Regions from separate parts of the Homo sapiens genome. Here regions 1 and 3 are each linked to region 2. The links come from fine-mapping of genetic effects on gene expression. A gene starts in region 2. Each other region holds a variant in brackets. All regions are shown on one strand. Distances are between the middles of the regions. Region 1 has its middle 690 kb from the start of TFAP2A-AS2. Region 2 holds the start of C6orf52 (chromosome 6 open reading frame 52). Region 3 overlaps LOC124900218 (a long non-coding RNA gene).

What was found.
Region 1: its variant is fine-mapped to the expression of C6orf52 in CD4 T cells (BLUEPRINT, PIP 0.95).
Region 3: its variant is fine-mapped to the expression of C6orf52 in visceral fat (GTEx, PIP 0.98).

Annotation. Positions count from the first base shown.
Region 1 is chr6:9,708,200-9,712,446 of GRCh38, reverse strand. It overlaps the pseudogene OFCC1. Among named protein-coding and RNA genes, the nearest start is that of TFAP2A-AS2, 690 kb to the left of the region's middle. The variant C/TC (reference allele first, on the strand shown) is at 1,771.
Region 2 is chr6:10,692,246-10,696,492 of GRCh38, reverse strand. C6orf52 (chromosome 6 open reading frame 52) reads left to right here and starts at 1,877. Exons shown (of 5, transcript NM_001145020.3): 1 at 1,877-1,999. PAK1IP1 (PAK1 interacting protein 1) reads right to left here and starts at 1,521. Exons shown (of 10, transcript NM_017906.3): 1 at 1,424-1,521. The coding sequence starts at 1,507. RefSeq lists enhancers at 1,494-1,873, 1,303-1,905, 1,914-1,963.
Region 3 is chr6:10,119,771-10,124,017 of GRCh38, reverse strand. All of the region lies in intron 1 of LOC124900218 (a long non-coding RNA gene), which reads left to right. It also overlaps the pseudogene OFCC1. Among named protein-coding and RNA genes, the nearest start is that of TFAP2A-AS2, 280 kb to the left of the region's middle. The variant C/T (reference allele first, on the strand shown) is at 1,787.

The DNA of each region.
Region 1 (4,247 bases), 980 kb after region 2:
CTTATTTAGGCTTTAGTTCAGCCTCCGGAGAAGGGAATGCTGAGGGAATATAATAAGGCCTTCTCCAACAGTGACATGATATGATGGATGCATGTTTCTTTGATATTTTCATGATAATGACTCCCTGAAAAGGTGACTATTAAGTCTTAGAAAGCCTCAGAAGTCACTGAGGATATCCATGCTCAAAAACTTGCTGATGAGTGGGATATGGTAGAAAAGAAAATAATAAGTACCTAAATAAAATAATTAGTTATAGATGATTATAATGAAAAAAGCACCTTAATTTTTTAAAAATGCTACAACCAGAGTATGTTTGGTTATGCCAAAAGAAAGGAATATGGAAATTTTTAGTGCCATCTATTGGTAGTGATTTTTAAATAAGAATTATTATGCATAATTGATGAGTGGTGGCTCTTTGTTTTATCCAAATTCCTAATTCCTAAGGATTCTTGTTAACTGTGGAAGAGAGTAGTTTAAGAATGCATTCTCTTTTTTATGCATTCTCTTTTATTTTTTCCAAAGCAATTTTGGTCTTTTTTTATTATGATTACATGGATGGATCATAGAAATCTTGTTTGATTTCAGGTCTTTATTAGGAGTGGGCATGGAAGGTGGATATATGTGTGTCATTTGAAATGTGGCTAAAGTTCAGAGAAATAGGTTTCATTTAATAGCTGAATACTGGATGACCTTACCATTCTTCTCACCCTCTGGCAGCTCACCCTGTGAGCAACAGAGGAGATGTCCGCATGAACTGAGAAGTAGCTGCTGGCCTCAATGTGATTTTGCAGTGATCTGTGTGCTCTATGGCTTCCTTCATAACCAACAAATCAATTCCCACTATACATATTACACACCCCAGTGGCAGAGGCCATTTATTATCCTTTTGATGGTCATACTCTTTGTACATAACCAAGAAAGATTACAGAGGAAGGCAAAGAACAGTTGCAATATGGATGAAGACATTCCACAATGACACTGCATTTTATCATGTGCCTTGCATATCTATAAGGATACAAAAGATGTTCTCTTTCAAGACAGTTTTGAAACATGGAAGCAAAATTCTTTTTAATGAAAAATATTTCAAGAATTATAAGTGAAGAGAAAGTTGTAGAGATAATTCTACAACAATTCTAAATTGTATACATTTAGATTTCAAGGGCAAATTTGAAATGATTAAAAGACTGTCATATTTTGTTTCTGTGTGGGCATTGTTAATAACACTATACTTGACTAGTTTTGCTCAATTAGCTTTTGATATAGCCTTTTATTTGGCATCATTCAGTATCAACTGATTGTTTTGTTAATTTCTAATTTGCAGTATATAAATTTCTAAACTCTCAATTATCGATTCAGGGATTTTCCTGATTCTTTGAATCCACATATATCTAATAATAGTTACCATTATTAGATAAATCAAAATCAAATCCTGACTTGTAGTGACTAGGTATAAAATAATTGAATATTTTGAATTAGAGCTAAGTGGTTCCTAATGAAATTTTAGTGTTATTTGTCCTAAATCAAAAGTCTGGTAAAAAAAAAAAAAAAAGCACATATATCTTAATGTGCATAGGAAACATTTTATTAGTAAAACTAATGGTAAAAGACTCACTTTATAGTGGGTTCTGTGCATACGCCACTTAAACTGCTTAGTCATTTATGTCAATGGATATGAAAAGAACAGTGGAAATTTCCAAAGGTCAAAGAAGCTACTGTCTTTTCTGTTTTGCATCATTTGAGACTTTCCAGGTTTTTTTTTTTTTTTTTTTT[C/TC]AAACAACACAATGCCAAATCTGCATTTGATTTTCCCTTCCCTTTGAAGAGGCAAAACAATGACAGAGTAATTAACCGAGGAGGAGATCATGTACAGGGTATTTTGCTTTAGCAGTGTGGAAAGTTCTGCATTTCATTTCACATGGTGGTAAATGGAGTGAGGTATTCTGAAATCCCTTCTACAAGAGAGTTAGCCCCTGACTACGTTACTGTATATAAACCAAACTTTCTTGGGGTCTGTTTCCTGTTTAACTGTTCCTCATTTTTGTAATGGAAAAGAATGCTCAATGCAAAGACTGCATCTTGCTTTCCATTAGGTGAGGGGCTACACCTTCATGGAGAAACACACAGAAGAACAACAAAAAGGAATTGTCAGTATCAGGTTTGGTGCCTCACTAGTTCTGTGCAGACCAAAAGGCTGTAGTCATGGTCTGGAATGCTAAGAGGGAATAGTAGATTTACTTGTTGTTTTTTCTTTCTTTCTTTTTTCCCCACTGTTGTTTTCATGATTTATCCTCTCTTCCCATGTTATGTCATCACATTTGATAATCTTCGGAGAGCAATGAGCTTTTGTATGTAACATCTTTTGAATATGTCCATGAATTCCATTTCTGTGCTGTCCCCAGCACTGCTCTGACTTGCTGTGGTTTGTCATTAAGTCACTGAACTGCTTAGTCTGTTACTAGTTTCTCCTTTGGTAACATGTTTATTATTAGGACTATTTTTCATTGAGGAATCTACTATCTCATTCTGGAAAATCTTTCTAGAATAAAATTAGGCATACTAATCCAGGAATTTACAGTCTAGTTATTATAAAGATCAATTACTGGTTTAATAAAACACGTGGTATATACCCATGCGATTTACTGCTTTAATTAAATAACAAATATTTGCATATCCATATATACCTTTAAAAATAAAAGGAATCATATCATCATTTAGATAGGTTTTCTACATTTCTTGGGCTCAATGGAAGCCCAGACTAGTTCAAAGTAGGACTGGGAAATATTAGAAAAGGAGAAAGAAAGAGAAGCAACAGAGTATGTGTTCATTGTTTTGTGAATGTACCACAGTGATAATGTGGTTCAAATTGTTTGATATCTGACCCTGAGGTCTGGGTGCTATTACAAACTTCTTTTTCCAAGTGAGGAAACTAAGGCATAGAGAATAATTATATCCAGGCTGTCAGCTCCCAGAGATTTTAGTCGCAACACTGTGGTAACTCTGTTGTATGCTACCTCCACAAATTGTTTGGACTGAGTAGAAAATGCTTTCTGATTGTTCAGTAATTTTCAGATGGCCTCTTCATCTTTTCTCTTGCAAAAACTATAATTTTAGAAACTTTGACATCTCTTGTCCTTAATGCCAAATATAGAGAAGAGATCAGAGCTGAATCAGAATACTTTGTATGAGATCCTTTTATATTTTGTTTCAACCAAAAATATCAGTATTGTGTTATGGAATGAAAAAGTTCTTAAGTTTTGGATTTGTATTCATAGATTTTTAGTGGCATACTGATAATTTCAATTTTTAAAATGAAAATTGATCTTTAAAAAGTCACATGCAAATAATTTAATCTTCATGTAGAGAGATCATTGTGGGTAAGTGAGATAAGCAGGAATGTATTTTAGATTTTAAAGATAAAAAGTAAATTTACCATTTACAATAATTTATTTTCATGTTTATTATAAAAAACTGTTCAATTATGGTAAAATCCTCATAACATAAAACTTACCATCTTAGCCATTTTTAAGTTACAGTTCAGTGGTAAGTACATTCCCGTTGTTGTGCAACAAATCTGACTTTTTTTATCTTGAAAAACTGAAATTCTATACTATTAGCAACTCCTCATTTCCCCTCTCCTGCACACCTGCCAACCACGATTCTACTTTCTGTTTCTATGATTTTGACTATTTCAGATACCTCCTCCTGTAAGTAAAATCATAAGTATGTGTTCTTTTGTGACTGGCTTATCTTTCTTAGCACAGTGTCCACAGGGTTCATCCATGTAGCATCCATGTTGTAGAATTTCCTTCTTTGTTAAAGCTGAGTAATATCCCATTGTATGTATATATATATATATATATATATATATATATATATATATATATATACACCACATTTTGTTTATCCATTCATCGACCAATGGACATTTATATTGTTTTCACATCTTGGCTATTGTGAATAATGCTGTTATAATCATGGGTACACAAATATCACTTCTGGACCCTGCTTTCAATTCTTTTGGATATATATCCAAAGGTGGAATTGCTGAATCATATAGTCATTCTATTTTTAATTTTTTGAGAACATACCATACTTTTTTCCATGGTGGTTGAACCATTTTACTTTCCTGCCAATAGTACACAAAGGTTTTAATTTCTTCACATCCTTCCAAACACTTATTGCACATGCGTGTGTGTCTGTGTGTGTGTGTTTATGGTAGGCATTTTAACAGATGTGAGGTGGCATTTCAT
Region 2 (4,247 bases):
TACACAGACACACACACACACTCACTCACTCCTTAAACTGAAGGAACTGCATCAAAAAGTATTTGCAAAACAAACCGAAAAAGAAAAAAACCCATCAAACTTCTTTGAACATGTGTTACTGCAAATCAGGTCCTTAGTTACAGAAGATACTCCTTCCATCATTTAAGACCAAGGGGGCCTCCTTTGAATCAAGCATTTTTGCGGGTCTGCTATGGCCTTAAATCAAATAATAACCTTTTAAAATTCACATAATGTAGGTTATCTAGGCTATTGCTTAGATTTAGTAGAAGTATAGGGTAATGGTTAAGAGTTTCAAATGTCAGAGACCCTCGGGGGCTCCTGACATTTTGGGGTCAGCTGTGTCAATTATTATCTGTGTGTCCTTCAGCAGTCACTTAACCTATCTAGGACCAACATTTTGGTACTTCATCTGCAAAACGAGAATAACTGCATCCTCCTCAGAGGGTTGCTGTGAGGACTACTGTGTGTCTGGAACACAGTTAAGTAATTTCACTACAAAAAAAAAAAATTAAATAGCATCATCTTTGACTATTCAAAACACATCACTTTTCAGCCAAAGACAAAGAGCAAATAACTGGAGTAGGAAACAAAATAAACGAAAGCAATAGGCCAAGTGATATACTTCCAAATTTTCTGGATAATTAAAGACCGACGCCTTGACTTCATAAAGAAGTACTGTACTCAATTTTCTAGAAAATGCTTAGAATTGCTTCAAGAATAAAAGTGAGCTAGATGTTAGGAGGTCGGATTCCTAGTCGTGAGTATAGTCCTATCTACCTATTTGACTACTGATAATTTATTTGACCTTTTTATCTATTCACACATCTAGTAATATCATATTCTGCTGTAATTTCTCTCCATCTATGCGTCTCCTCAGTCCTCCACCCCTTATGTAGGCAACGTCTCTAAGGCAAGATCCATACCTCCAGCATCTTTGCATCTCCACCGCCCAGCTCGCCATAAGTTCCCAACAAATAATGAATTGGTATCGCTTTACCTATAAGGGATTTATCCTAATCTAGTTCTAGTAATTTGTAAAATTCCAGGGCAGAAATTCAGCAAAAGAGCGAGATCTTCTTTCATTAAATTCTGAATACTGTCAACTTATGGGATCGATCCTTAAATCCACAATCTACGACTCATTTGTCCGTATGCAGAAATGCCGGTTTCCTTTGTGTCCCGTGGACCTTTTGTCTACTAGAAAAGGCAGATATTGCCTCATTTTGATAAAATGTCCATTCTACGGTTTAAAAGGTTAGCTTTTCTCTTAAGTCTCTTAGGTTTGATTCATCAAATCATCCAGTGAACAGCAGGCGCTCCAATGTTCACCTCTGCTGTGTAGGAACCAAACCCGACCTTCCCGGCCCCGCCTCCGACTGTCTCTAACTACGCGGTATCTCACCTCGTGGTCGCCGCAAGCCTCGGGCTCCGGGTGTACAGCGAACCCAAAGAGGACCTGCTCGTAGCAACCAGCGACCAGCTCCATTCAGCAGCGCACGTGCCTCTTCCGCCAGCCCGGCTCAGCCTGGAGGTGACAGAACCGGAAACCAAAAAAAAAAAAAAAAAAACACCTGACTCCTTTCTGCATCGGCGCTCGAATTATACGTCAGGCTCCAGGGCTGCCTTTAAGTCGCCTGTAACGTGGAAACACTTTAAGCGCGGGGAGGTCACATGGATTTTCCAAGAAGAGAATAAGTAAAGATGCCACATGAGGAGGTTCTCACTGCAAGGAGAAAAAAATCGGGGGCAAGCAGGCATATCTCAGGAAGGTGCCAGCTACGCCCGTCTGAAGGGAGCGGGCGGGACATCCTCTGCGAAGCCCTTCATTTCCGTGACATCAGGAGGAGGTGGGGCCGACTTCCGGCCGGTTGCTTAGGGGCTGTAGCGCCGGCAGCGTGCATTGTTGTGGGCTGTGTACTAGTAGGGTAGGAGTTTTTGTTCAGGGACCAGCGGAACGAGGCTTTCTGTCGTTAATAGGGTAAGGAGGGGTGGGATTAGGGTTCGCGGTGACTTGTTCCAGCGGCGCAGCGCTCGCGCTGCCTTGACGGACTCGGAGTGCTAGATGTGTCCGCGTTCCCGTCTGCCCGGGCCAGAACCCCAGCCCTGCACACTTTCTCTGTCTGCTTGTCTAACTCTGGGGCTGTATTGGCCAAGGTTGCGGCACCTCCTGGGGAGGGAGCAGTGAGCCTTCATTTTTTTTTTTTTTTTTTTGAGACGGAGTTTCGCTCTTTTTGCCCAGGCTGGAGTCCGGTGGCGCGATTTCGGCTCACCGCAACCTCTGCCTCCCGGGTTCAAGCAATTCTCCTGCCTCAGCCTCCCGAGTAGCTGGGATTACAGGCATACGCCACCACGCCTGGCTAATTTTGTATTTTTTAGTAGAGACAGGGTTTCTCCATGTTGGCTAGGCTGGTTTTGAACTCCCGACCGCAGGTGATCCGCTTGCCTCGACCTCCCAAAGTTGCTGGGATTGCAGGCGTGAGCCACAGCGCCCGGCCAGAGCCTTCATTTGAGAGTTGGGAAAACAAAGTGAGCCTGAGCAACATATTTTGATGCCGTCTCTACAAAAATGTTATAAATTAGCCCAGCATGGCGACGCCCGCCTGTGGCCTCAGCAACTCGGAAGGCTGAGGTGGGAGGATTGCTTGAGCCCAGGAGGTCGAGGCTGCAGTGAGCCGAGATCGCTCCACTGCATTCCAGTCTGGGGGACGAGCCAGGCCCCCTTTCAAAGAAAAAAAAAGTTTTATTTAATAAGGTTTAGAGATTCAGGTATGTCTTAGACATTACAGCTTTCCTACAAGCTCCCAACAGAGTAAATCTTGGTTCGTATAGTTCTCATAAACACCGTAGTAGGTCATTTGGTAAACAAGATGCATAGTCCATCCTTCTCAAATCTTCAGCCTCCATTTCAAGTGCGATACAGTGCTTCAGCGCTTAGACCCTTTTGTTTCCAATAACTTTTCTTCTCTGGTGTTCTGAATTGTTAGTACGTGTTAATAGAGGCTAGTTTGGGTCTTGCAGAAATGATTTCATTTGGGATGCTTTGGTTGTCACTGCAGTGCAGAAAAGACCTTGTTATTGTTAGAAATAGATAATTGGTGACACGAAGAAAAGTCAGCATGGAGACAAAAGATCTCTCAGCAAGGCAATTTTTACTTTATGCAGAAAGGGTGCTCAATTGCAGATGGAACGATGGTGAGAGCACTCCTGAACAAAGGAAAAGCAGACATATTTGTCCCTTACGCCTTTGGGTTGTCCTTACTGCTGTGTCCTGCATCCGTTGGCTGGGGCTGGACCTCATAATCTTAAACTGATACCCGATTTGCTAAACAGGCTGTGAGCTGGAACGTGCCTGGGCCTGTGAGCATGTCCCGCAGTTACATACAATAGGGCTTAACAGAGTTATTAGCACAAAGCAAGGAGGCTTGAAGTAAGTTAGTCTTTAAAAGAAACTATTGTTTCTAACATTTATGATTTATTCTTTAACAAGAAGGGAAACTTTGAAGAGGCAACTTTTTACTTTCTACGTCATCTGCCAGCTTTGTCCACGCCAAATGTAAACACTTCTCAAGACACTGAAATGCTGTTGACAAACTAATTCTCAGTCTAGTGGAAATCCTTGTATTCATTCACTCTTCCAAAATCTTTCTTGGCTGGGCACGGTGGCTCACTCCTGTAATCCCAGCACTTTGCGAGGCCTAGGCAGGCGGATTGCTTGAGGTCAGGACTCTGTCTCAAAAAATAAAATAAAATGGCCAGACGCAGTGGCTCACGCATGCCTGTAATCCCAGCACTTTGACGAGATCAAGAGATCGAGACCATCCTGGCCAACATGGTGAAACCCCGTCTCTACTAAAAATACAAAAATTAGCTGGGTGTGGTGGTGGGCGCCTATAGTCCCAGCTACTCGGGAGGGTGAGGCGGGAGAATCGCTTGAATTAGGGAGGTGGAGATTGCAGTGAGCCGAGATCCCGCCACTGCACTCCAGCGTGGGCAAGAGTGAGACTGTCTCAAAAAAAAAGTCATTCTTTCTTTACTTTGTGCTAGTTATCTTCATTGTGTTACAAAAAATCAAATTATTTTAGGATTTAGAATAGATTACTTTTTTTGTAATGTGTAAGTTTCCACCAGAGAACCACTAAGATTAGAGGAGTGTGAAGTAAGTGTCCTCTGGACGTGAGACAAGGTATTAGTAAGCAGGACATTGTAAGTTTCACATTTTATCTTTA
Region 3 (4,247 bases), 570 kb after region 2:
AGGTATTATTTGCATTGGAAATGTCATACAATAACTTTTTCAGAAGCAAAGTTTTCTTCAGAAACAAACACCTTTATGTTAAGACCTCTGCAGATCAGTCTTAGTTTAAAGCTTATGTTATTATAAAAAAAATACAGTTTAGGCCGGGTGTGGTGGCTCACGCCTGTAATCCCAGCACTTTGGGAAGCTAAGGCGGGCAGATCACGAGGTCAGCAGATTGAGACCATCCTGGCCAACATGGTGAAACCCCGTCTCTACTAAATATACAAAAATTAGCTGGGCATGGTGCGTGCACCTGTAGTCCCAGCTACTGGGGAGGCTGGGGCAGGAGAATCGCTTGAACCCAGGAGCTGGACATTGCAGTGAGCTGAGATCACGCCACCGCACTCCAGCCTGGTGACAGAGAGAGACTCCGCCTCAAACAAAACAAAACAAAACAAAACAATTTAGAGTAGCATTTTAAAATGAAAGTATTTTAAACAAAGATTTAAGATGATTTTTGCCCTCTGCCTTCCAGTCTGTGAATTCACATTCCTAAGAAATCCTTAGTCCTCGATCTTGGTATGTCCCTCTCAGTCACATATTGTAAGAAGGTGGATAAGGGCAAGCATGGTCATTTATATTGCTGAAGTTCAGGGTTGAATACATACAGATCAAATCCACCCTAAAATAAGTAGAAAACAGCAAGGCAGCCATTTGTGAAGCTAATTAAGTGGCACATTTTTTTTTAGCTTATGCTTGTTAAAAAACTATGTGCTATTTTATGAAACCAAGGCTGAAAGTGATACATACCATTGAGGGTAACACTTTTTGGACTTATTGCTATTGTTATTATATTTGAGCAATGAAGAGCATTTGGGTATAATTTAGGGCTATTTACCTTCACCCTTCTTAATATCTGTAGTCTACCCAGCTATCTCCACAACTCTTTAGCTGTCTCTGGCTTAACCATCACCATGTAGTGCACCAAAAGACTTGTGCAAGACTATTTACAGTAGCATTATTCCTCACAGCTTCAAACTGGAAACAACTGAAAAGTCCACTCACCGTTGACTGGATAAATTGTGGTAGATTCACATCATGGAATGAAAAGAACAAAACCCATTATATAAAGTGACACGGATAAATCACAGTCAATGTGATAAGTAAAAGAAGCTGGTGACAAGAGTGTAGGAACTGCAAGATTCCATTTCTATGAAGCTTAAAAGTAGCCCAAACTAATGTAAGATAATAGCATAAGTAATCCGTGCTTTAAAAATTTTAAAAACATTTTTAATGTTTTGATTGACACATAATAACTGTACATGTTTATAGGGTACATAGTGATGCTGTAGTACATATAATGTCTGATGATCAAATCAGGGTGATTAGTATGGTGGTTGGACAATTTTTTCACTTACTTTTCTAGGAAAGTACCTCTGTGTACATAGGATAACACACTATTATCAAACTCTATCTAACTTTGCTAATCTCATAGGTTAAACAAATTAAGTTCTTTTAGTTAAGTTCTAATTTTTATTTCTTATTATGAATGAAGTTGAACATCTTTCCATGTGACTAAAAGACCTTTTTAGTTCCTTTTTCTGTGAAACTCCCATATGTATATGTGTGTTTTTGTGCATACACACTCATATACATATATGTAAATATGTACAATATATGTATGTTTGTGAATATGTATCTTTTTGCTTAGTTTTTCTGTTTCTTTTATGGATATGTCAGAACTGTTTATTTATTATAGCCATCGGCCTGTGTTTGTGATATTAATTGCATTCCCTACTCCTCC[C/T]TCACCCCCAGTTTTGTAATTTGTCTTTTGATTTTGTTACAGGGCTTATTTCCAGTCAGGAAAGTTTTATTTTTATACATTTCAATGAATGTTCTATTGCTTTTGAATTTTAGGTCATATTTAGAGGGACCTTCCCTAGTCCATTATTATAAAACCTTGCTCTTAGGTTGATGGTTTTATATTGTACGGTTTAAACCTCTGTCCATTTGGAATTTATTTTGATATAAGTTGGGAGATAGCTATTTTCCCAACTCCGTTCTTTCCACAGGGTTTCCGGTTGTTCACAAACTATTTTCTGAATTATTTATTGTCTGCTTATAAGTTTGGAATGCCAACTTTTGTGTATATTGGATCCACTTCTGAGCTTTTTATCCTGTTTGCAATATTTATCCACTTGAATTATTATAGCCTATTGAAATTTAAGTTAGACTTGATCACCCCTTTATTATTCTTCATTCACAGAATTTGCCTCAAAAATTCCCATTTTTCTTTTTATTTAAATTTAAAACATATTTTCTTCAAATTTTTTCCACAAATACAATTTTCTGGAATTTTTATGAAGATTGTGTTTAATTTATTATGTCAGGAAGAACAAATATATTTTTGGTGTTGGCTGCTGCTATCCTAAAACAAGCTTCTTTATTTAAATGTTCTTCCATGTCCCTCAATAGCATTTAAAAGTTTTCTTCTTATGCTAATTTTTTATTGGTGAAAAAAGTCTATTGTTCCTATGTATTTTATTCTTTTATTGCTATAATAAATGTTTCTTCCCCCTTCAGTTCATATTCTTATTGGTTGTTTGTTTTTATATAGGAAGGAGAATGATTTTGTACTGGAGGCACCTTCCTAAATTTTTTTGTCATTGTGGTTTTTCAATTGTTTCTCCTATGTGTTTAGAGGTAAATATTGTCTTTAAATAATAAACGCAGTGGCTAGTACTTTCAGAACAATGTGGACTAACAGTGATGATGAGGACATGTGTGTCTTGTTCCTGTCTTTAGTAAGACTGCATCTAATGTTTCTGCATTAAGCATGATTGGACAATATCTCTTAGGTGATATGTAATGCTTCATTTCCATCATTTTCTAAATATTCCATAATTTCGGGTTTGATCTTATTCTTTTCTGAGTTGTTTACTAGAGAGTTTTAATATTTCAGATGATGGTTTGTTTTCTAGTGAGTTTTATTTCTAAATTCTCTTATATAGTATGCCAAGCTATCTGTTATTGTTTCTTTTTAATTATTTCATCTCATGCTCTGCTTTCTTTGCTTCTTATAATAATTTTAAAAGTTTTAATTTTTATCCTAGTGATTATTTAATAACTATAACATTATATAATACACTTAATCTTCTGTTCTTCAAGAGAGTATCTATCAACTCTCTAATACAAGCAATTGAAAATTAATTTGTTTGTCTTACATACTTCCTCCTATCATCCAATTTTAATTGTTTATATTATTTAAAAAATTATATTTATATCTCTAAGTGCAGTTATTGCTTTGTTATTTGATATGTCAGGTTTAAATTGCCTCATTTGACCCCAGGCTATTAAAACAATTTTTTAAGAAGAAATAAGCAAAACTATATTCCTTTTTACTTTTTTTCCTCCCATCTCAACTTAAAAAAAATCATACTGGCTGGGCACAGTGGCTCACCAGCATTTTGGGAGGTGAAGCGGCTCACTTGGCATTTTTGGAGGCCACGGTGGGGGATTGGTTGACCTCAGAGGTTTGAGACCAACCTGGGCAACAAAGTGAGACCACGTTTCTTAAAAAAAAAAAAAAGAAAAAGAAAAAATTATTTAAAAATATAATTTCTACATTGTCAGAGTTGAAAGTTATAAAAGTCTATTCTTTAATTTACAAGTCTCATATTCGTTCAAGTTTTGGTCACACAGCTCCATCGTTTAAAACCCTCCGTGCCAGTCCTTTAGCCATAGTGACTCCATTTCTTTCTTGGTTGTCTGAAGTTACTTTTCTGATAGTTTCTTAATAAAGCTACTGAGATTTAAAATCTTGTTGTATCTGAAAAAGTGATTGGTAAATAACAGTCTGTCTGGGTTTAAACCTCAGTCACGTGTTCTTTCCTAGAGGGTCTCGCAGGCACTGCTCCTCTGTCTTCTGGCGTTGATTTTTCTGAACTTTGAGACTAGCATTTTTTTCTTCCTCTAAATACTTGATCTTTTGTCTGGATCCCCAGATTATTCTTTTTTTGCCTCTGAAGTTTAGTAACTTTCTGGGATGTCTCAAAGAGAATATTTTGATTTTTCTTTTTCTTTTTTTTTTTTTTCGAGACAGTCTTGCTCTGTTGTCCAGGCTGGAGTGCAGTGGCACAATCTCGGCTCACTGTAAGCTCTGCCTCCTGGGTTTATACCATTCTCCTGCCTCAGCCTCCCAAGTAGCTGGGACTGCAGTCACCCGCCACCACGCCTGGATAATTTTTTTTGTATTTTTAGTAGAG